Linked DNA regions of Homo sapiens. The protein of the gene in region 1 purifies or fractionates together with the protein of each later gene. This does not show direct contact. Each region holds a gene or a part of one and is shown on either strand. Other genes may lie near its edges.

What was found.
Region 2: the proteins of DOLPP1 (region 1) and ASS1 purify together in Homo sapiens (affinity purification with mass spectrometry, with the first as the bait; one large-scale study listed by BioGRID). This does not show direct contact.
Region 3: the proteins of DOLPP1 (region 1) and LYG2 purify together in Homo sapiens (affinity purification with mass spectrometry; 3 studies listed by BioGRID and IntAct, with this or other methods). This does not show direct contact.
Region 4: the proteins of DOLPP1 (region 1) and VSIG8 purify together in Homo sapiens (affinity purification with mass spectrometry; 3 studies listed by BioGRID and IntAct, with this or other methods). This does not show direct contact.
Region 5: the proteins of DOLPP1 (region 1) and DSG4 purify together in Homo sapiens (affinity purification with mass spectrometry; one large-scale study listed by BioGRID and IntAct). This does not show direct contact.

What each region holds. Positions count from the first base shown.
Region 1 is NC_000009.12:129,087,138-129,091,718, reverse strand, and holds the end of DOLPP1 (dolichyldiphosphatase 1), read right to left. Parts: intron 2,749-4,581; coding exon 2,712-2,748; 3' UTR 1,281-2,711; downstream 1-1,280. UniProt on the Homo sapiens protein: Required for efficient N-glycosylation. Necessary for maintaining optimal levels of dolichol-linked oligosaccharides. Hydrolyzes dolichyl pyrophosphate at a very high rate and dolichyl monophosphate at a much lower rate. Does not act on phosphatidate.
Region 2 is NC_000009.12:130,447,261-130,451,927, reverse strand, and holds part of ASS1 (argininosuccinate synthase), read right to left. Parts: intron 2,073-4,667; exon of another isoform or gene 1,973-2,072; intron 1,657-1,972; exon of another isoform or gene 1,595-1,656; intron 1-1,594. UniProt on the Homo sapiens protein: One of the enzymes of the urea cycle, the metabolic pathway transforming neurotoxic amonia produced by protein catabolism into inocuous urea in the liver of ureotelic animals.
Region 3 is NC_000002.12:99,248,811-99,253,477, forward strand, and holds part of LYG2 (lysozyme g-like protein 2 precursor), read right to left. Parts: intron 1-4,667. UniProt on the Homo sapiens protein: May act as a potent antibacterial protein that may play a role in the innate immunity.
Region 4 is NC_000001.11:159,853,274-159,857,361, forward strand, and holds the end of VSIG8 (V-set and immunoglobulin domain-containing protein 8 precursor), read right to left. Parts: intron 3,371-4,088; coding exon 3,251-3,370; intron 2,888-3,250; exon of another isoform or gene 2,809-2,887; coding exon 2,610-2,808; exon of another isoform or gene 1,754-2,609; coding exon 1,480-1,753; 3' UTR 1,043-1,479; downstream 1-1,042.
Region 5 is NC_000018.10:31,400,495-31,405,161, reverse strand, and holds part of DSG4 (desmoglein-4 isoform 2 preproprotein), read right to left. Parts: intron 4,282-4,667; coding exon 4,142-4,281; intron 1,747-4,141; coding exon 1,528-1,746; intron 1-1,527.

The DNA.
Region 1 (4,581 bases):
GATTCTCCTGCCTCAGCCTCCCGAGTAGCTGAGACTACAGGCGTGTGCCACCATGCCCAGCTAATGTTTGTATTTTTAGTAGAGATGGTATTTCACCATGTTGGCCAGGCTGGTCTCGAACTCCTGACCCTAAGTGATCTGCCCATCTCTGGATTATGGGCGTGAGCCACCGTGCCTGGTGTTCTCTTTAAAAATAGTAAAACAGGCTGGGCGTGGTGGCTCATGCCATAATCCCAGCACTTTGGGAGGCCGAGATGGGTGGATCACTTGAGATCAGGAGTTAGAGATCAGCCTGGCCTACATGACGAAACCCCATCTCTATTAAAAATACAAAAAAAATTAGCCAGGGGAGGCTGAGGCAGGAGAGTTGCTTGAACCCAGGAGGCGGAGGTTGCAGCAAGCTGAGATCGCGCCACTGCACTCCAGCCTGGGTGACAGAGCAAGACTCCATCTCAAAAAAAAAATAGTAAAGCAGTCTGCTTAATCATTCCAGTATTTGAAGAATTTGTGGGTTTGTTTCTATTATCTGTTTTCTGCTGCTGCTCCATCATGGTGTCTTTTTTCCTTTTATATTTGATCATCTTTGTCCACATATATTTGTTTTTGAGATGGGGTTTTTCTCAGGCTGGAGTGCAGTGGTGTGATCACAGTTGGCTGCAGCCTTGACTCCCGGGCTCAAGCGATCGTCCCACCTCAGCCCCTCGAGTAGCTAGGACCACAGGTGTGCACCACCACGCCTAGCTCATTTTTAAAAAAATATTTTGTAGAGACAGGGTCTTGCTACGTTGCCCAGGCTGGTCTCAAACTCCTGGGCTCAAATGATCCTCCTCCTTTGGCCTCCCAAAGTGCTGAAATTACAGGCGTGAGCCACTGTGTCAGACCAAGTGGAGATGTTTATCCTGGCACACTCTGAAGGGCACACTGGCTGCCCCTGAGTCCTCAAGGCTGTCCCACAGAGGAGGAACAAGGCTCAGTGAGAGGAGGGCCAGCGCCACACAGGGAGGGAGACTGACAGTGAAAAGAGGAAAACTTCCTAAGGCTGAGAGTGTCCAGGTTTGGTATGGTGGCCCTCAGTGAGGTCCCCTGGAGGGATGTAATCAGAAGCTGGACAGACCCTGACAGGAAATGCCGCAGAGGTCATTCAGACCCCTGCTGTGGGCTAGAAGGGACTAGATCACTTCTGGTTTTATGGTCTTCACCGTATCCTTGCCCCTAAGGGTCATGTGTCCCCACAGCTGCCCCAATCTCCTCTCCTGAGCTCAATCAGCAAGTGCTCAAGCTGCCAGAGTTTACGGTTTTATTTTAAAACAGTAGTAAACAATTTCATTGATTTTTCTTAAATCAAACCACCTCATACTCGGCTTGTCTCAGGCAAAAAGTAAAAAATAAAAATAACGGGAGGGAAACATGGAAACCGACCTACCTTCCCTAGAAATAAGCCCCTGGTCTTGGCATCTGGAATGGCTTTTGGACACTGCCTTTAACAAATGAGAAAAGAAAGCACCAAAACATTGTGCTTCAGCAGCAGGTTAGGAAACTCCACAAAGAAAGGGGTGGGGAGGATTCGAACACAGATCCCGAGTGACCCAGTTCAGTCCTCAAAACTTCTGAGAGTCTGGAGGCGTCTCCTCTCCACAACTCCCTTTCAGAGTGACTTAGAGATGGGGGTCCCTTTAGGAAGAGCCCTCCCACGAACCAGGCTGATAGGGATCTGTGAGCCCACACCCCAGACACAGGTTTGAGGGGGACCCCAAGCAGGTTCCCAGCTGGTCAGAGATGGGTCAGGAAGGACAAGGACATATTCAGAGCACACAGAGGGAAGGACGAGGGACTTCGGGTGCCTGTTGCCTCACTCCTCTCCTCACGGCTCCTTCCCATTTTGTTCACGTGGGGATGAAGACTAACTGCTACTGGATGGCAGGACAAGAAAGAGCTGTAAACAGCTTGGGTCTGCTCACCCAAATGTGCAGGCTCCTTTGTCAGAAAGCGATTATTGTCTTAGGGACAGGGGACCAGAGAAAGCCCTTGTGGTGTTGGGTCAGTACGGGGTAGAACACAACGACAGCAGCCGCCAGACGCGTGCTCGCTCTGGGCCCTGCCCCCAGACAGGGAAACACTGACCGAGGTTCTGGAACGGCAACGGTGGCAGGGAGGGTGTGGGGTATGCTCCCCTCCTCCTGGCACCCAGGCCACCCCGGCCCAGGGAGAGGCAGTCTGCCCTCTGGGCATAGGGCGAAGGGCCTGGGAAGCTGACCGGGAGCCCTCTGTTCACAGGGCAGCCACCGGAGAGCAGATTCTTCCAGCTCCAAAATCCTGCCTGCCTCTGACAAAACCAAAAAATAAATAGTGTGTACTTCTCACGCCACCTGGAATTCCTGGCCCCGAGACCAGAGGCGCGAGCCCTCCTCCTCCACCCCACACCCAGGTGCCCATGCCGAGGGCACTTTCTGCCCAGCCAGGGGCTGGCAGCAGCACAGCGAGGGTCTCTGGCCACGGCCCCCAGGCAGCAGGCCCCCCAGGGTCCTGGTTGAGGGGCTGGTTCAGCCCTTTGGTCCACCTTGTTCATTAAAATTAAAATAAGAAAAAAAAAGGCTCCACTTGGTGACTTGGGTCTGTAGAGGTCTCTGCTTCGTCCCTGTCTGTCATCCTGTCCATCCTGCAAGGCATCGTGCGGGCCAGATCTGGAGGCTGGACCCAGCCACACCCACTGGTCACTGCAGTTTCGTCCCCAGCTTGCGTTGTCTGTTCCTGCAAAACAGGATGGGGGTCAGATGTGGAGACATCTGGTGTTCAGTGACCTACAGCTGTCCCCACCCCACCCGTAGTCCCAACTAAGTAGGCAAATGCCCACACCCAGTAGCCAGCGATTGACCTGAACTGGGCCAATCAGAGCACCTGCCCTGGGAATGGCACCTAGACAGGGCTGATCTCCCCGGCGAGGCCTGTACCTCAGTTATCTCAGCTCTGCAATCCCAGAAGTGGAGCCAGGGGATTGGAGCAGGGGTAGGGACCAGGATGAGACTACAGAGGCAAGAGGGACCTGGCTGGGTTCCAATTAGTTATGGGGAGTTTCGCTTTATAGACGAGGCAGCACAAGTGGGCTCAGTTGTTATTGATCAAAACAGAAGTACAGAAATGTAGTGAGCTCCCCATCCGGGAGGTATGCAAGCGAAAGCAGGAGAACTACTGATGGAGGTTACTGAGGGGATTTGAGCACCCAATTTGGGCTGTGGCTATATCCAGAGTGAGCCCAGGAACCTGAGGGAACCAGGGCCAATCACCCCCATTTTCTAGAGGGGCTGACAGAGACTCAGTAGAGGAGAATGGGGTTTGTCTAGGGTCCCAGTTAAAATCTAGAAACCTGACTGGTCCTGTGTGATCTGTCCCCAGCCTCATCCCACAACACACCCCTTGCTCCCTGGGCTCCAGCCCCGGCAGCCTCCGTCTGGTGCAGTCACCAAGCTTTGTCAGCTTCAGGAGTTGTGCATGCCCTTCCCTCTGCTGAGAACGTTTCCCCCAACCCCCACAACACCCTCCCACCCCCCTACCCTCCCCATCCCCCCATCCCCCCCCACCTCCCCCCACCCCCAGCTCCCACGTCCCCACATAGGCTCCCGACACAAGCTGTCAGGCCACAGCACTGATCACATAGGCAGGTGCGTCGCAGCTCTTCCCTGCCTGCCGTGAACACAGTGAGCAGGGGACCATGGCTGTCACTGTGCTTGCCCCCAGCACACAGCCTGGCACAGAACAGGTGTGCCCTGAGATTTTGGTAAATGAAGGCAGGTGGAGGCCGGCCAGGCGGGGCAGGGCAGGGTGAGGCGGGGCAGGCCAGTGAGAGATCAGCGGGGCCAGCTGGGACCTTTCTGCCTCTAATAGGATTGCCTGCCCTAACCCCCTCCAATCCCCTTTCCTCATGGATCCCCGGCTTTGCCCTTAAGCTCGTTAGGATAATTTGGACCTTGATGCACTAAACACGTTTCCTGGCTGCTAGGACGCCCCACCCTACCCCGCCCCACAGTCCCTCTCAGCCTGCCTAGAAACCTCCCAGGCTTCCTGTGGAGCCTCAGCTCCCCTCTGAACCCAGAGAAGGGCCGGCCTTCGGCCGGGCGAGGTGGCTCACACCTGTAATCCCAGCACTTTGGAAGGCCGAGGCGGGTGGATCACAAAGTCAGGAGATTGAGACCATCCTGGCTAACACGGTGAAACCCCGTCTCTACTAAAAAATACAAAAAATTAGCCGGGCGTGGTGGCGGGCGCCTGTAGTCCCAGCTACTCGGGAGGCTGAGGCAGGAGAATGGTGTGAACAAGGGAGGCAGAGGTTGCAGTGAGCCGAGATCGCGCCACTGCACTCCAGCCTGGGCGACAGAGCGAGACTCCGTCTCAAAAAAAAAAAAAAAGAAAAAAAAGAAAAGCCAGCCTTCCCACTCCCCTAAGAACCTCACCCAGGATTTGGGGTGAATGAAACAGCATGAGTCAGGAGTCTCCAAAGCTCAGCTCTGTCCTGACTTGCTGCACAACTACAGGCTGGCCTCCTAACTCAATGTGCCTCAGTTTACCCAGGCCTAAGAAAGCATCTGG
Region 2 (4,667 bases), 1.4 Mb from region 1:
AGGCGGCTGAGGCTGAGCAGTTTGGCCCAAGGCCAGGATGTGAGGAATGCACGCAGGCAGGAGATGTGGGAGGGGCCTTGGCTCTGAGCCTCTGGCAGCTGACACATCCCCCATCAGAACTGCTCCTTGCCAAGCACCAGGCAGGGCCCTGGGAGCCTCAGCGGGATCTCCCTGTGCCCCTGAGCCCCCACTACAACCTCATGAAGTAGGAGTTGTCATTCCTATTGGGGAGGCAGCCAGCAGGGCTCAGAGAGGTCAGTGGCAGGCTCAAGGTCACAGAGGGCACAAGAATCTGTGCTTCCCCAGCACGCAGTGCCGCCGCCCACCTGCAGGTGGAGAAGGATGCTGTGGGGCAGGGGCCCAGCCCCAGTCCCTCTCCTACCTGCAACCCCATGGAACCTTCACTGGCTGGAATTTTAGACATCGTGTCTCCAAATGTGAGCGCCTCTGAATTCAACTCTGCCAATGCCCAGTTTGGAGGGGCTCAGAGACCAACTTCCCCCAGTGTGGAGGTAGAGAAACTGAGGCCCAGGGAGGGAAGGCGATAGACAGGCAGAGGCCTAAGACCTCTGCAACCAGCGGCCCTTCCCGGGGGGACAGATGGGCACGAGGGCTCTCTGCAGCCAGGCCCTCTGCAGCCGGGAAGTGCCTGCGGTCTCCCATCCTGCCCCACCCTCCGTCACAATGAAGCCTCCCGAAGGCGCCAAGGCCTCCTGTCTCCTGATCTTTGCAGCCATGCTTCTTCCCCGAGGGCTCTCCCTGAATCCTGGGCTGCCCTTGGGCTCGCCCTGCACCCCCCTCCCCCACATGCCTCCTGTGGCCCTGGGCTTGGGCGTCTTCACTGTGTCCAATTTGCTGAACAGGAAACCAGGGTTAGGGAGACGAGGTCACCTGCCCAGGGTCATCGGATCAACAAGCAGCAGGGGCAGATGTGGGCCCAGGCCTCCTGGTTCCAGCCTCCGTGGACACCTGGCCCCAGCATCCCGCATTTCCCAAATGTACAGGGCATGTTTGTTCTGCCTGGGAACGTTTCCACTGGAGTCTGACCAACGTCACAAGGTCAGAGTCACCCAGGGTCTTTATTAGACACTACTGGGGAAGTGGAGCCCAGAAGGGTCACCCGGCCATCACCATTGCAGTGATGCAGGCATCGCTATCCTGAGCACTCTCTGTGTGCCTGGAAGCTCGGGGAGAGGAAGTGCCTTTCCCAGGCCTCCCGTCCTCTGCTGCAGAGCCTGGCCGTGTAGCCAGGTGGACTTTGGAGCTCCGTCACATGAGAATTCAGTCCCGTGCATGCTGCACGGTCCCACCTGCCAGTCAGCCGGGGCTCACAGGCCTGTGCTGCCCTTTGGACTTAGAAGGGGAAACACCTCATGGACCATGCAGCTGGGGCAGAGAAGATGGTTCTGGTCGGTGCCCACAACGTCCCTACTGGGCATTCAACCCCCTGCCCCTGAGTTGCTGGTGACTCAGCCAGCCCTAACCCTGGAGCCAGCAGGTGGTATCCATGGCAACTGCAGCCAGGCAATTGGCCATGCAGGATGGAGGGAAGGAGGGAGGAAGGCAGGCAGGGAGGACTTAAGGTGGGCAGTACCTGGGATTGGAGGCGTGAGTTCCCGGCGTCTGGAATCTGTTTTCACAGTGCAGTGAACCACTCTGCAAAAGCAGAGCTACTCAGCTGCCTGCAGGTAGCCTGGGCCATCCCAGAGGCCCTAAACCTTACTTTCCAGCCGCCCAATCTCCTGTGAGCAGCCTCACTGAGCAGAGGAGGTCCAGGAGCCCCAGAGCCACCTGTCCTGCCTCCTGCCTCCTGCCCCCTGCTCCAGAAGGCATTCAGGAAATATGTGGAAGCCTACCCCTGTTTGCGTGTGATGGCGCGGGTGGTGTGGTTGGGTTGCGGGAAATTCTGTTGTATGTTTTAAAACAGCTCTATTGAGGTCTACTTGACATATCATAAATTGCATTTTTTAAATATCAGATGGGTAATGTGCCAACATCATAACAAAGTTTGAGGGTGGCACCTCACACACACACGAGAATACCCAATCAGCACATTCATCAACTACAAAAATAATCGCATATTTTTTTGTGTCCAATTTAGCAAGTTTCGGCGTGCGGATGCGCCCGTGACATCAACACCACAATCAAGGGAATAGACATGTCCGTCTTAGGCTAAGCCCTTCCATCTGGGGTTCTCTTCATTTTAGAGTCAGGAAAACTGAGGCTTGGGCTGAGGAACTTGCCCTGCATCTCGTTTGACTGGTAGGCAGCAGAGCCAGGACTCCAACTCAGATCAGCTCGGCTCCTTAACCCCCTGCTCATAGGTACAAGACCACCACTGGAGACTCAAGGAAGGGAAGTCCTGGGCAAGTGTGATCTGATGATGCTGGCCCAAGATTCACCCAGCTCTGAGAGTCACCCCTGCTCCTGCCTCCTCCCAGAGGCACCTGGAGCCAAGAGAGGCAGCTCCACAGAAACACGGAGGGGCAGCTCCACAGAAACAGCTGGATCACCTGCATCGCCTCAGTGACCCGCCATGCCTCCTGCCCATCAGAGCTGTATCCTTTTTTTTTTTTTTTTTTTTTCAGACAGGGTCTCATTCTGTCACCTAGGCTGGAGTGCAGTGATGCAATCTCAGCTCACCACAGCCTCCACCTCTTGGGCTCAAGGGATCCTCCCATCCCAGCTCAGTGCCACCACCCCCAAGTAGCTGGGACTACAGGCACATGCCACCACACCTGCCTAATTTTTGTATTTTTTGTAGAGATGGGGTTTCACTACATTGCCCAGGCTGGACTCGAACTCCTGGACTTAAGCGATCTGCCTGCCTCAGCCTCTCAAAGTGCTGGGATTCCAGGCATGGGCCACTACATCCGGCCATCATGCTGTATTCTAACTGCCCTCTCCCCCACTATGAGCTCCATGGAAACAGGGACCATCTCCCAGATGCCTGTGGCAGGCACTTAGAACAATGCTACTAGTTCCACTCTCTGGAGGTCAGCTCCTCACCGCAAAAAGAGGGCTGGGGTGCCCTGAAGCTGTGGAGTCCTACACATGCTCTCATGGCCGAGCACAGTGGTTCATGCCTGTAATCCCAGCACTTTGGACGGCCGAGGTGGGTGGATCACTTGAGGTCAGGAGTTCCAGACCAGCCTGGCCAACGTGGCAAAACCCCGTCTCTACTAAAAATACAAAAATTAGCTGAGTGTGGCGGCACACACCTGTAGTCCCAGCTACTTGGGAGGCTGAGGCACGAGAATCGCTTGAACCTGGGAGGTAAAGGTTGCAGTGAGCCAAGATCGTGCCACCACACTCCAGCCTGGGTGACAGAGTGAAACTCTGTCTTAAATAAACCAAAAGAAACCAGTGAGCCCCTCCTGCCTGCCAGGTTGTAGCTGGGCAGGTGTGGGCTCTGAGGCCTTCAGCCTCTGGGGCTGGGCAGTGTGAAGCAATGCATGGACCTGGCGTGTGTACCTGAGACAGTGTGTGTGTGTGTGTGTGTGTGCGCGCGCACACACCTGTGTGCACCCAGGGGTGCGTACCTGAGAGTACACAATGTGTGTGCATGCATGTGTGTGATGTGTTTGGGCTTGCACATGTGTGCCTGTGTGCATGCACACGTGTGTGGGTGTTGGGGCCAGTGTATGCATGCAGAGAAATGAGCTGGGCAGATGGGCTTGGGAAAATGATGCAATCAGACAGCAGCGTTGCTCCTGCCCTCCCAGCAGCGGGTGGGGCACCCCCCTCCCTCAGCCTCCGCAGGTCCCTAAGCTGCATTTGCAGCCCGAGGCAAAAACTAAATGAAACTGAGGGTTTGATGTCGGGGGAGGAAGTGACAGGGAGAGAAGGAACCACAGCTGCAATCCAGTGAGCGCTCACTCCAGGCACAGGACAGAGGTCAAGTCCACCAGACATGGGTTTGAGTGGCTTCAGCTCTCTAGCATAACTGCTCAGCTGCAAAATAGGGGTGCAAACAGCCTGCTCCCCACAGGGCGACTGTAAGGATTGGGTGAGATGCTGGGGGAAGGAGCCCAGAGCTGGGCACCAAGCATGTATGTGCCCACTAAGCTCTGTGCACCGCTGCTATGGCTGACCTCAGCCAAGTTCCTGGCTTGCTAAGCCTCAATTTCCTCATCTGTACAACCTGACAGCCCTCTGGGTTCTGACCCTCCCAGACATTGGGCTTTCTTCCTGGGAGCTGCGCCTGGCAGGCAGATCCTGGCTGAATTCAGCCTCCCCTAGTCCCAGCTCCACCCCCACCACATCCCCCAGAAAGGGCCACGGCAGGTTTCTCCAGCTCCCTGGCAAATGCCCACTGCCCTCCAGCCCTCCTTCCCCGGAAGAGACACCTGGGAGGAGGGAAGGTGGCCTCGCGTCAAGGTACCAGAGCCACCTGGCTTTCATTGGGATGGCATTCTCTGTGGCCCCAGCCACAGCCATCTGTCCAGCTTCCAGCAAACAGGCCAGCCTGGGCGCTCACTTGACACTAAGGAAAACTCGTGCTACTTGAAAACGTCAGAGCTGGAATGACAACAAGAGCGGCTACTATGTTCACAGTCACAGGTGCATCCTCTCAAGGTGGAGACTGCCATTACCACCTATTTACAAAGGAGGAGGCAGAGGCTAAGCGGCCAGCCGAGGTCACAAGCTAGCGGCTTCAAACCCAG
Region 3 (4,667 bases), on another chromosome or scaffold:
GATAAGAAAGAAGGGCACCATAACAATTTAAATATATTCTTATTATATATCATTTACTGTGAAGTTGAGTTCCTATGTATATTTAATAAAATTAGAAGTAAAAATTGAATTTGCCAAAATAATTTAAGTCAAATCTATTCTTGTCTTTTTGTTCTGTCATTAAAAAGTGAATTTCTGTCCAAGTCTACCTGTTACAGGAGAGGCAGAGCTTTTGCTAAAGGAGATACAAAGTTATTTTCTGTAATGTTGAAAAGTTTGTTCTAACGGTTTCAAGGACTGTTAACTTGTACCTTAAGAGTCCAAATATTTGTTATAAGACAGTACTTAGGGCTGGATGTTGTGGCTTATGCCTAGAATCCCAGCACTTTGAGAGGCTGAGGCAGGACGATTGCTTGAGCGTAGGAGTTTGAGACCAGCCTATGCAACATGGCAAAACTCATTTCTACAAAAAATACAAAAATTAGCCTGGTGTAGTGGCACATGCCTGTAGTCCCAGTTGCATGGGAGACTGAGACAGGAAGATTGATTGAACCCGGGAGGTCGAGGCTGCAGTGAGCTTTGATGGTGCCACTGCACTCCAGCCTGGGCAACAGAACAAGACCCTGTCTCAAATCTCAAAAAAAAAAAAAAGGATTTTGTTAAAATGTTTGATGTAAAAAAAATAGAATCTGGTTGGGCGTGGTGGCTCACACCTGTAATCCCAGCACTTTGGGAGGCCAAGGCAGGCGGATCACCTGAGGTCGGGAGTTCAAGACCAGTCTGACCAACACGGAGAAACCCATCTCTACTAAAAATACAAAATTAGCCAGGCATGGTGGTGCATGCCTGTAATCCCAGCTACTCGGGAGGCTGAGGCAGAAGAATCGCTTGAACCCAGGAGGAGGAGGATGCAGTGAGCCGAGATCGCGCCATTGCACTCCAGCCTGGGCAAAAAGAGCGAAACTCTGTCTCAAAAAAAAAAAAAAAAAAAAAAAAGAATCTAACCACTTCTCCCACCTCTGCTTCTGCCATAGTCCCAGCCAGCATCATTGCTCATCTGGACTCTCCTAACAGCCTTCTAACTGACCTCCCTGATTCACTCTTGCAGCCCATCCTCTACTTAGTAGACGGAGTGGCCCTGTGGGAATATGCATGGGCTGCTATCAGTCTTCTCTCTTAACCTTCCAGTGGCTTTCTCCTCCTTTAGGGGAATAGCCAAGTCCATCCTGCAGCCTCCAAGACCTACTAGATGTGGCCCTCTGCTCCTGTTCCTACTTCTCTTTCCCTTTGTTCACTCTCCTCCAGCCACATTCTTCTTTGTGCTTATCCTTCAACATGCCAGGCAGGTTTCTGCCTCAAAGCCTGTATGTTTGTGGTCCCTTTTGCCTAGAATGCTATTCCTCCTGGTATCTACATGATCATGCCTTCAGGTCTCTGTCCAAATATCACCTTATCAGCAGAATATATAGCGAGTTTATAGACAAAAAAAGAAAATAGTCCTTAAACATATAAAAGACGTTAAACCACACTCAAAAGAAGAGAAAGGCCACATTAAAACATCATTATAACAGCATTTTCCAACTCTTTTTTTTTTTTTTTTTTTGAGACAGAGTCTTGCTCTGTCGCCCAGGCTGCAGTACAGTGGTGCGATCATGGCTCACTGCAAGCTCCGCCTCCTGGGTTCATGCCATTCTCCTGCCTCAGCCTCCCCAGCAGCTGGGACTACAGGCGCCTGCCATCACACCCGGCTAATTTTTTGTATTTTTAGTAGAGGCGGGGTTTCAGCATGTTAGCCAGGATGGTCTCGATCTGCTGACCTTGTGATCCGCCCACCTTGGCCTCCCAAAGTGCTGGGATTACAGGCGTGAGCCACCACGCCTGGCTGCATTTTCCAACTCTTTAGTTGGCAAGAGCCCAAAGGTTTGGCAATACCCTCTGTGGGAGAGGTTGTGAGGAAATAGGCTGTCACACACATTGCTGTGGAACACAGTTTTGTGATAGGCTGTTCATTCCAGCACTGTTGATAAGAGCAAAGGACTGCAAACAACACAAATGTCATTAATTTAGGGACTGGTTGAGTAAGTGATGCTACGTCCACAGTGGAGCACTATGCAGCTGCAAAAGGAAAGAATAAGACCTGTATATACTCCTGTAAAATTCTCTCCAGGGACAAAATAGTATTTATAGAATTGTACTCTTTGTGTAAGAAAGGTAAGAAAATACAATCGTATATTTTGTGTGATTTGCTCATATTTTCAAAAGAAACAATACAAGGATGAATGAAAAACTGATAAAAATTGTTAGTTATGGAGAGAGTAAGAGGAAGGTAAAGGGAACAGGGATAGGGGATAGACTAACTATCTTTTTTAAAGTTTTTATTTTGGAACCATGTAAATGTTATCATAAATTTTAAAATTAAATCAAATGGGGAAAAATGGAATCATAAAAAAGAAGAACAAATGAACATAACTCTATAACAAATTGAAAGATTAATAAACACATAGAGGAGAATTATCTTAAGTGACTTTAAAATATATCCATATAAGTCTATACCACTACATAGGAATCCATCCTGTGAACATAAATAATCACAAGAAAATCTTAAATTATATTTACTGTCTCATTGTTGGTTGGTAATACTGTCATACTTATTTTGACACTATTGTATGTAAATAAGTAATAATGCTAATGTCATTAGAACTAGGATTTTTAGTGTAAGATAGCAGAGGTACAAATATAAAACTGATGTAAAATGCTTGCATTCTTAAATATAAATGTGAAATATCTGAATGCATAGTTGTTTTCCTTTTAAAAATATATATTTTCTAGTTCCTGCCACTGAAAACACCTGAAATAAACGACAGCTCCATAGCAATGGAGCACTTTTACTTCCCACACTGTGGTCTCTAAATACCATTTCCTGCTAAGTGGAACCAGCGCTCCTCAGAATAATGGCTGATTGCCTGCCTGGGGCAGGAAATGTTCAAGATGAACCAGGAACATCTTTTTGTGCCAGAGCTGGTCCTTATATGTTAGAGACACATTAAAAAAAAAAATTTTTTTTTCCAGATGGAGTCTCACTCTGTCGCCCAGGCTGGAGTGCAGTGGCCATTCTCCTGCCTCAGCCTCCCAAGTAGCTGGGACTACAGGTGCCTGCCACCACACCTGGCTAATTTTTTGTATTTTTAGTAGAGATGGTGTATCACTGTGTTAGCCAGGATGGTCTCAATCTCCTGACCTCTTGATCCGCCTGCCTCGGCCTCCCAAAGTGCAGGGATTACAGGTGTGAGCCACCGTGCCCAGCCCAAAAATTTTTACAGGTGAAATGTTTTTATCTCACTGCAAGCTCCGCCTCCCAAGTTCATGCCATTCTCCTGCCTCAGCCTCCCAAGTAGCTGGGACTACAGGTGCCTGCCACCACACCTGGCTAATTTTTTGTATTTTTAGTAGAGATGGTGTATCACTGTGTTAGCCAGGATGGTCTCAATCTCCTGACCTCTTGATCCGCCTGCCTCGGCCTCCCAAAGTGCAGGGATTACAGGTGTGAGCCACCGTGCCCAGCCCAAAAATTTTTACAGGTGAAATGTTTTTATCTCCCTCCCTTCCTCTCACTCTTTCCCTCTCTCTTCCCTTTTTCCTCTCACTCTCTTACTGTTCGTTCCTCTCACTAGAAGATAAATTTCATTAGGTCAGATACTAGATGTTTTTCTCTGCTATATCCTCCTCAGCACCTGGAACAATGCTTGGCACAAAGTAGACATTTAATAAACATTTGCTGAATGGAAGAATGGATAGTTGGATGGATGAAGGAATGAGACAGAAAGGGATTGTTTAAATTATCTGGATCAAGTGTCCTTATATTGACAGGTTCAGTATCCTTTCACTGGGAGGCAGTCTTTGCCAGGCTCACTGTGTGGCCCACAGACCACAGGCATCAAAGTTACCCAGGAAGCTTATTAAAAATGCTTATCACTGGGCCGGGCGTGGTGGCTCACACCTATAATCCCAGCACTTTGGGAGGCCAAGGCGGACGGATCACGAGGTCAGGAGATCAAGACCATCCTGGGTAACACAGTGAAACCCTGTCTCTACTAAAAATACAAAAAAATTAGCTGGGCATGATGGTGGGCGCCTGTAGTCCCAGCTACTTGGGAGGCTGAGGCAGAAGAATGGTATGAACCCAGGAGGCAGAGCTTGCAGTGAGCTGAGATCGCACCACTGCACTCTCCAGCCTGGGCGACAGAGCAAGACTCTGTCTCAAAAAAAAAAAAAAAAAAAAAGGCTTATCACTGGGCTTTTCACACCAGATCTACTGCACCAAAATCTTGCAGTATAAGGCGAAAGAAGCTGCCTTTTACCCAGCATTCCCAGTTGACTCTTACACATGTTTATGAACCACTGCTTTAAGGGAACTGGAATATGACCATGGACCCTACGCTGCCTGTGTAGGCCTTATAAACACACAAGCCCTTTTTAAATTAAGAGTCACCTTTCAGCTATACACAGCTAATATGGTAGCTCATAATTAATCTACTGGCTATTTAACTCTGCTCTCACCTGGCAATCTAAAAAGAGTAAAAATTTAAAACTATGTTGCCCTGTTTTGACCATAAGTAACTGGAAATTACTTTCGGGTAGCCTTGTTTTTCCAAATTTAGAATTAAACATTTTAGAAACACTTTCCTTTC
Region 4 (4,088 bases), on another chromosome or scaffold:
GCACTCCCCATCTCACTAAACAAGAGAGGACGTCTTGCGCCTATTAACAAAAACAGTGCTTATTGATTTCCACTTTTGAACCAAAAATGACTAAAACATCCCCCAAAATACATTGTAAATATCATGACAAGGTGTTTAACAAAACAAGTGCTGGTAAATACTAAATAGCTCAATTAATCCCTATCTAGGAGTGGCTGACTACTTCAGGGTGTAAGAACGTGGAGCTGGATCTCAGAAAGGCCTAGATTCTCACCACAGAATATTCCATCATAAGGCAGTAACTGTAAAATATCTAAAAACTTTTTTTTTCTAGCATAAAGTAATGCTGCCACACTCATTCACTTGGTATTTCTCAAACATCTCCTGCAGAATGGGCTCTGCACAAGTTGACCAACTGCAGACAAATGAAAAAAAAAAAAGAACCACAAAAATAATTGTTCTAAAACACCAGCAGCATCTAGGTGAAGGGATTTACCATACTCTCCGAGTTCCATAATATATGCTATATAAATATTATTCCCCCTCCTTCCTGCACTTCACCCAGCACCCTAGAACTGTGGCACTTAGTTTTTTAATATAAGAGGTTGTAGTCTTATTTTCACATGTCCTTGTTTCTGTCTCACCGGATGCCTGTGCCTTCTGTGCTCCAAGGACTGGTTTCCTTTTAGCTTTCAGCAACATACAAAGACTCCCTAGACCTTCAGAGCACATTATTCTCAATAGAAAATCTTGACATGTGAAAACTTTGAATATTTAGAAATGGCAAGTGTATTGCACTTTGTCGGTTCCTCAGTTTATTTTACGGTCGTAGATATTCTGAGCTAATTCTTTTTGTCTTTGTTTTCCTTTTATCTGCACTTTGTATGTTGTTCAGAGGAGTTGCCCTGGATGGCCCCTTCCAGCTCTGACTGCCAGGGATCTAAGCAGGAGGGAGGAGAGGGGGCGTGGTCGAGGCGAGCGACAGAAGCAACCCTCCCCGGCCCTGGGCAGGGTTCGCCACCCCGTGCCCAACCTCCGTGGAACGCGGACAGCCACTTCGGACTCACGTCTCAATGTTTCTTTATTGTGCTAACACTGCTGCCTCAGAGCTCAGACCTCACACACAGAACAATTCGTCCAGACAGACCCCCACCCACCCGGCCCCCGGGGCCCTCTGCTTAGGCTGGGGACACCAGGCCTCCGGCCTCAGCCGCTCTAGGACACTCAGCCTCCTCCTCCCTCCCTCTCCCCCAAGCCTTCGGTCCCGGGGGTGCGGAGAAGGCTCAGGATCGCCTTCCTCCGCCCTCGCCCGCCCCTTCCCACTTTTGGGGAGGAGGCTCTGCCTCCCTACGCATTTCCTTAGGGAAATGCCTTCACCCCCAGCCGCCTGGCAGCCTGGGGCGAGCGAGGTCGTCCCCAGCCCCGACGTGTCCCCAGCTGCAGACAGAGAGCCCCGCGCCCTCCTCCTGGCTGGGGCGCAGCCCGGCCCGGCGCGCGCGCTCACACCAAGAGGCCGTTCTTGCACTGCACCGGCCCCTCGGCGCAGTCAGCCGGCTCCGCGCTCTTGACCTTGACGTAGACCGGGGAGGGGCCCGCTTCGCAGGCGGCGGCGGCGGTGCAGGGCGCCAGGGCCACGTCCTCGGGGCCGCCGCAGGGGGGAGGCGCGTACTTGCGGCGCAGGGAGCGGCTGACGTTCTGCGTCGGGTACCCCAGGAGGTGGGTGACGCGGCTGCCGCGCCCGCTGGCCTTGCACCCGGGCGCCACGGCGTCCTCTCTGTGGAAAACAACAGGCGGGCGGGTGAGCGGGCTGCTCCGCAGCGGGGCGTGGGCACGGCCTGGGCAGAGCCGGGGGCTCTTGGCAACCTCTTGTCTCCCGCGCCTCCCTCCACCTGCCCTCGTCTCTCTCCCTCGGCCTCGACCTACTGTCCTTTGTGACCCTTCCTGGGTCGGCGACCCTGCAGCGGTCCCGGAGCCAGCATCCCCATCCTCCAGACAGGGCTTGTCCACGCGTATCTGGAGAGCCCTGCAGGCAGCCCCCTCCAGGCCCCTGCAATCCCTTTCTGATGTTTCGCAGGCCCAGAAGAAGGTGCTTTTCCTCTTCTTCTTTCCTTAGCTAATCCTGACCTTGCTCGAGCAATCTCTCTCTTTCTCACCTCCTGCCCCTCAGTCTTCTCCATCTTTCCCTCCATCCCCGAGGCATTGCAATCATTAGCACTACTAGACTTGTTCTATTTTTATTTCTAGTTTGCTTCTAATATAAGTTATTAGCACTATTCTTATTATTAGCTCTTCTTAAATAATAATGTCAGAGTTCTTACCGGCGCAGTACAGGGGAAACGTGAAAAAACATAGGCCCTGCCCTCCAGGAGCTTACAGTCTAGACAAGACAGACAGGTGCGTAGGCAGGAGGGAAATGGAAGGCAGGGAGCAGAGGTGAAGACTGGGGTGGCAGGGGGAGGGGAAAGCCATGAGTTGGGTGGCAGGTCGACATGCCGCAGTCCCAGCACTCCGTGGCGATGGCGGGCAGGGTTGGGGTGGGGGGCCCAGCCGGCCGGTGGCAGGCAGGAGTGAGGTGGGCAGGGCGCCGGTTCCCTGCCGCACAGCAGCATGCAGCATGCATCAGGTTTTACCTGATCTCACTAGCCAAGTCGCCGCAGGCCCCTCCGCCGACCCCGCCGCCGTTGCCGTAGCCGAAGGCACCGCGGGCGCCGCCAGCCCCGGAGCCCCCGCAGCAGCAGCAGACGAGCCCCCAGATGCCTACGGCCAGGCAGCCCAGCGCGAGCAGAGAGCCCAGGACGATGCCGATGATCACGCCTATACGCCGGGAGTCTGTGGAGAGAAGTGGAGGCAGGTCAGGCTTTCTCACAGCCTGGCAGGTGCCTGAGGGAACAGCACCAGGAGGTGCCAGGTCAGGGGTTAATGGGAAAGAGGGAGAGGGACCCAGGGGGTCTCTTAGCCCTGGAACACCCAGTGGGGAAGATATGGGGAGATGCAAGTTAACCCCTCGTGTCAGCATGCTTCTCCCAGGGCTTCCAGCTGCTCTGGGCTCTAGAGCTCAGAGTGGAAGCTGTGCTGGGCGAGCTTGACCCAGCTCAATAGGGTCAAGATCGTACCCACTGATCTTGGCCCACTTGTAGGAAAGGGGCTGGGAGCCCCCACTGGCAAATGGATGGCAGTGGAAAGGCAGAAGCAGCTGAGGCTCCAAACCAGAGCCCAGCCTCCTCCAGTTCAACCCTCCCAACCACCCAGCCCTCAAGACTGCTGCACCTACCTGAGACCTTCACCTCCACCACACAAACACTGTAGCCCACGTTGTTGGCCACTGTGCACTGATACAGCCCATCATCTGCTCTGGAGATATCCTTCAACACCAGGTCCCCATTGTTCAGGCCTGAAAGTGAAGTGGAGAGAGGCCTGGTCTCTGAGAGCTCCCACCCCAACCTCAGTCCCTGTGGGGTGGGGGATGGGACACCCACTCTAGAAGAAGGGAAGGCTTATGCATGTGTGTACACCCACACCCACACACACACACACACACTCCACTCTCCAGGTGAGTCACCTTCCCCCTGCTGTGAAAGAGATGCAAGAAAGGACCTCTCTCCCAGCAGCAAGACAGGGACACCATTAATTCACTCTGACCTTAGGGAAATATGTACGCTCTCTGAGCCTTGGTCTCCTCCTTTGTACAGTGAGGACAGGAGAAGCCAGGGGAAGAGGAACTCTAAGGTCCCTCCTAGCTCTATTATTCTTTGTTTGACTGAATATTTTCAGCTTCTCTATGTACTAGGAGCTTTACACACCTCCCCCATTTAATCCTTGCATGCCCATGAAAGGTATATGTTAGTATTCCCTTTCCATATATGAAGAAATTAAGGCACAGGGAGGGTAAGCCACTTGCCTTAAACTTGGAGCCAGTCAGTGTCCCAGCCAGGATTCAAGCCCAGCTCTGTCTGAGACCAGGCTCCCTCCAAATTCGCCATAGTACTTTTGACTGACTCTCCACATTTGCCTTATCATCTGCTCTCAATAGCAGCTGCTGGGCCAGGCACGGTGGCTCACGCCTGTAATCCTAGCGCTTTGGGAGGCCAAGGCGGGCGGATCGCCTGAGG
Region 5 (4,667 bases), on another chromosome or scaffold:
CTGATTGATCCATAGCACACAATATTTTTTATTATGATGGTTTATTATCCTCAGTTAGCTAGATGGCAAGCCAGCTATGTCCACCAAAATCTAACCTGTGCACAAGGTAAAAATGAGATAAGGCAATGCCACAGCACATTAAGTGAAATTCATTCTGTTCTAAAACACCAGCAAGCATTGAAACAGGTCTCTAGGAATATCATCTCCAGTGTGGTTATATTTTTTATTGGCAAACCTGTAATAGCTATAATATTATACCTCCATGCAGAACATTTTTTCTTACATGTGTAATCATAATATCTAGGATCCGAATGAGGAAAAAAGTGGTTAGCAATTATTATTGTTTATGAATGGGCTATTGAGCTTTATAGGAGATGGTGAATTCAGAGTTGACTTGATATTAATGGAATTGCTTTAACATGATTAACTTTAAAAAATATTAAAGTGGTTTTGTTGAAAAGAGCTAAAGGTTTGATGGTAAAAACAAATTGCCTAATTTCTTACTTTATTGGTGGTATTTTCCCCACCTTATTTTAGGGTTTCTCCATTCTGTAAATAGAGGGGCTTGGTGACCTTAAAGAGGTGGGAAGTATTTCCTCTCACCCTGGGCTCTGTAGTCTGATGGCCACCGACTAGCCCATGAAATTTTCCCTGTAGCCCCAAATGAATATGAGATTGGGGAGCTATCTTAGCCCATATGAGATCCTCTCATAGCATTTTCTTTTTTATTATGCACTTAACGTTTTAGGAAAAAGAACGCAAGGTAGATAAAATGTTATGTTATCTGAAATTTATTCTTAATTTTTATCGATGTCAGCCATTCAATTGTATGTAGTTATAGTCAAGATACATACATATACAACTTCGTGATCTGTTTTTCACTTTACTTTCTTTGGTTTATGCATTCTTTTGTATCTACATACTTTGCATAATTCTAATTTTAATGGCTGTATATTAACACATCTTAATAATATGTACTCTGTTTAATCATTCCTCTAATACTGAGCAATTTGGATTTAAATTTTTACCCTTAAAAATAAGTCTGAACTCATAGTTACTGTAAAAAACAATTTAATTGATTTTATGTGCTCCTAAGTGAGTAGTAAATGTTTAAATGTATCTATGGGATATATGAGTTTCAGAGACATTTATGTGATTTGTCTGAATTTATTCAGAATAGGGAATTGTGACATTCTTAATTTATGAGTTTGTTAAGGGTTCTGTTTATTTTAAACTGAATAAATATTGGTTCAACGTTTTACCTACTCAAAATGATGGGTAAACTGGTATTTATCCACTACTATTTGTAAATTAAATATTAATGAAACATTTTGACTCATTTCATTTCAGTTCAAAATTTTATCAAATATCCTCTGTGTACATGAAATATTTTTTTCATTTAATGTTAATATGGCAAGAACTGTGGAAACAGAAGTAGAATGTTTTATTAAGTGACTTGCCACATTTTTTGGTAATTGTTTTGCTTTTGGACTTAAAGTCCAAAAAACAAGCTTACGTTTCACTTACCATTTGTTGATCTGACATCCCACATGTCAGCTATTCCTGGTGGCTCATCAACAACACAGAAAGTAAACGGAGACCCATAAGAATGTTCATTAACAGAGATAAGGACTGATGGAGAGTCAATGCAGATGGTTCTTCTTTCAGGAAAAATGTTTGGACAATAATCATTGATATCAGGAACCTCAATACATATGGTTCCTGTAGCTGTTTTTCCAGAGCCATCTGAAAGAGTAAGGGTCATTGGTGTTGAGGTAAATGGTGTTAGGGAGAAAACTCTTTCTCATATCCCCTGATGATGCCATGGAACTTGTAGGAAACATATACGTGACTTGGGAGGCTTGACAGGTTCCTGCCCGCTTCAGTGACCCAAAGTCACTCTTCCCTTTGTGTGCTACCTTCCAGCCACACTGCTTCTTTTGAGTTCTTTAAACAAGTTTCTTTTTTACTCTGGACTCTGGCACATTCTTTTCACCCTTCCTAAAATGTTTTCCACCCTCATTTCATTTTGCTAATTCTGACACATCCTAAGGCGCAAAATCAAATGTTCTTCCTCCGAGAAGGTTTACTGGTTTCTAATCTCACCCTGTTCCCATAAATTAGACCCCCAGGTCAGTTATGAACCTCCATTCAGGATGCTCACTGAGTCCTGTGTTTGTAGAAATAACCACAGCTGAAATAAATACTTGTTTGTGTTTTTCTTGTGTGCTCACTGTTTATTTTAATTGCATCTGTTACATGCTATTTCTTTCTGAAATGGCATTTCTGAAAACAAATATAAGTCTATTAGATTTTTCCCTAATCCACTTGAAACAAGTTTTTGGATAGTATAATTAATCAGAAAGGGCCAAAGACTAAAGATTAGGAGTCCAGGAGCTTTTTAGTCCACTTTTCTACTCTATGTTCTGTTACAGCGAATACGGAATTTTTTTTGCTTCTTTTTAACTTGAAAAGAATCTTAGCTTTCTCGCTTTTAAACTAGAACGTTGTCGTCTCTGGGGTACCTTACTAGGTCCTTTTCTGAGAAAGCAATAAATTCCTTTTACAGATGTTTTCTGTGTGCCTAAGTAGTAGTCATTGAGGTAACTGAATGAGAATAAACTGAGAGCCTACCTATAGTCTATATGATTTTGTATAATATGTTTATATACCCTATTCAGCATTGGACTTGTTTTTACTAGATGAAGGATGTCGATTTCACTTAGCTTCTCATTCGAGAGGCATCAGATTATTCCACAGATTGTTTTATTTGTCATTCTTTGATCTTTGGTAGCTCTTCTATTACCTTGTGATTGGCAACCAAAGCTCAAGCTATTGCTTATAGTGTTTGCTTCCCAGTAAAGTTTGCTCTGCATAGAGGTCTGTCTCTTCACCTGATGATGGTGTGTGCTGAAGCAAACTTATTCCAACCATTCAGATAGCTCTGTGCCAGTGCAGACACTCTGCTTAGGTGAATAAACAATCAGCTTTGTTTCTGGGTTTCTCTTGGTACATTTTGACAGCACTTTCTCTCTCTTTATTTGCTTGGAATGACTAATTATTTATTCTAGCATTTGAAGATTTTTCACATATGACCAATATGCAAACATAGGGTGCAATCAACATGGTTAGAATCCATTTTCAAATTAGAGCTTCCAGAATACTGATAATGAATAAGACAATGTTATTTATAAAACTGACCCAGGCGTTAAAATTTACCCGCCACAGGATGAAGCCCAGGATGTACAGATGATAGTTGGTTTGGTTTTATCATGGTTTCTTTTTGAATTTTATGCTGCTTCTTTATCTTTATTTTTGTTTTGATACTGGAAAGGTCAGCTATAAACTCAATGCAAACCTACAGTATCTGTCTTACATTAGGCATGTATCTTGGACGCCTGTCTTTCCCCTTCCTTCGTGGTTCCTGACCTTTGTCTCTTGTTTGGTTCTACAGCAGCTGGTTTCCTAGGCACTGCTTCATAGAATCATTAACTATTGATAAATAAACAAATCCTGTTGCTGCTCACCAAGAGGACTGCTTAACAGATTTACCCATGTGAGAGGTGGCTCGCTTACAAGTTAAGTCAGTGCATCTGTATTTATGACTTTTAATATGGATCTTATATTTGGAATAATCTGTGCTTTCTTGGTCCATAGCATCTTACTATGGAAATATGTCTAATCAAGCAACACTCACACAAGCTTCTCACTGTAGTTCAGTTTTAATGGATCTAAAATAATTGTATTCTTGGAGACATTGCTTTCCCACAAGGTGATCCCCAAATGAACTTTGTAGAGCACGTAGCCCTTACTTTAAGTAAACATTCCCAACATACCCTACAAGTGAGATTAGCCATACTCAAGAGACAAAGTCATAATCAGAAGATGAATTATATTTTAACTTTTATGCTGTAAGCCATATACAACTCAGTTTTGGAAGTAGATGAAATAAACTATGGCTTCAGTGTAAATTATGATTTTAATTGACTTCAATTCTTGATTTAAGGTGTTTAGGGCTTTCCATAAGTCTTGCATACACCATTAAAAATGTCTGAGTCACTCAAATATCAGCATTAGAATAACATAATATTTAATATAATAGTACTAGTTTTCTTAAAATACTGAAAATAAATTTTCTTACCATCTATAGCCAGGATCTCTGCTGTGTATATCCCATTGATAATATATTTTGACTTCTTATCAAATTCTCTAGAAAATTGTATCTCACCAGTTCTTGAATCAATTTTTAACCAGCTGCCTGCATCATGCCCTATGATATATCTGTTTTTAAATAAAAAAGTTCGTTATCATGCTTTTATGAAAGTTAGTACTTTTAAATCATGTAACAGCTACAATGTGGCAAACTTTAATATTGTGTTTTTATGTTTTATAGTGATGATTGCCTTGGTTTATAAAAAGTACATATATATCAATAAAAATTCAATGATATATACATTAATATACAGGTCTGCAAGTTTTAAAATTTCATCATTTTTACTCTTCTGGCTCCTAGGATAATTGTTAATAAAATGTATGAGTTTATTTCAGCTCTATTTATTAAATCATAGCAATGTAAAACATCCTTTATTCATTTTCAGAAACACATATTGCTTATTTATTTTTGTATGTGGTATACTTAGGATTTTTTTTGTGGCTTTTCAGCTATG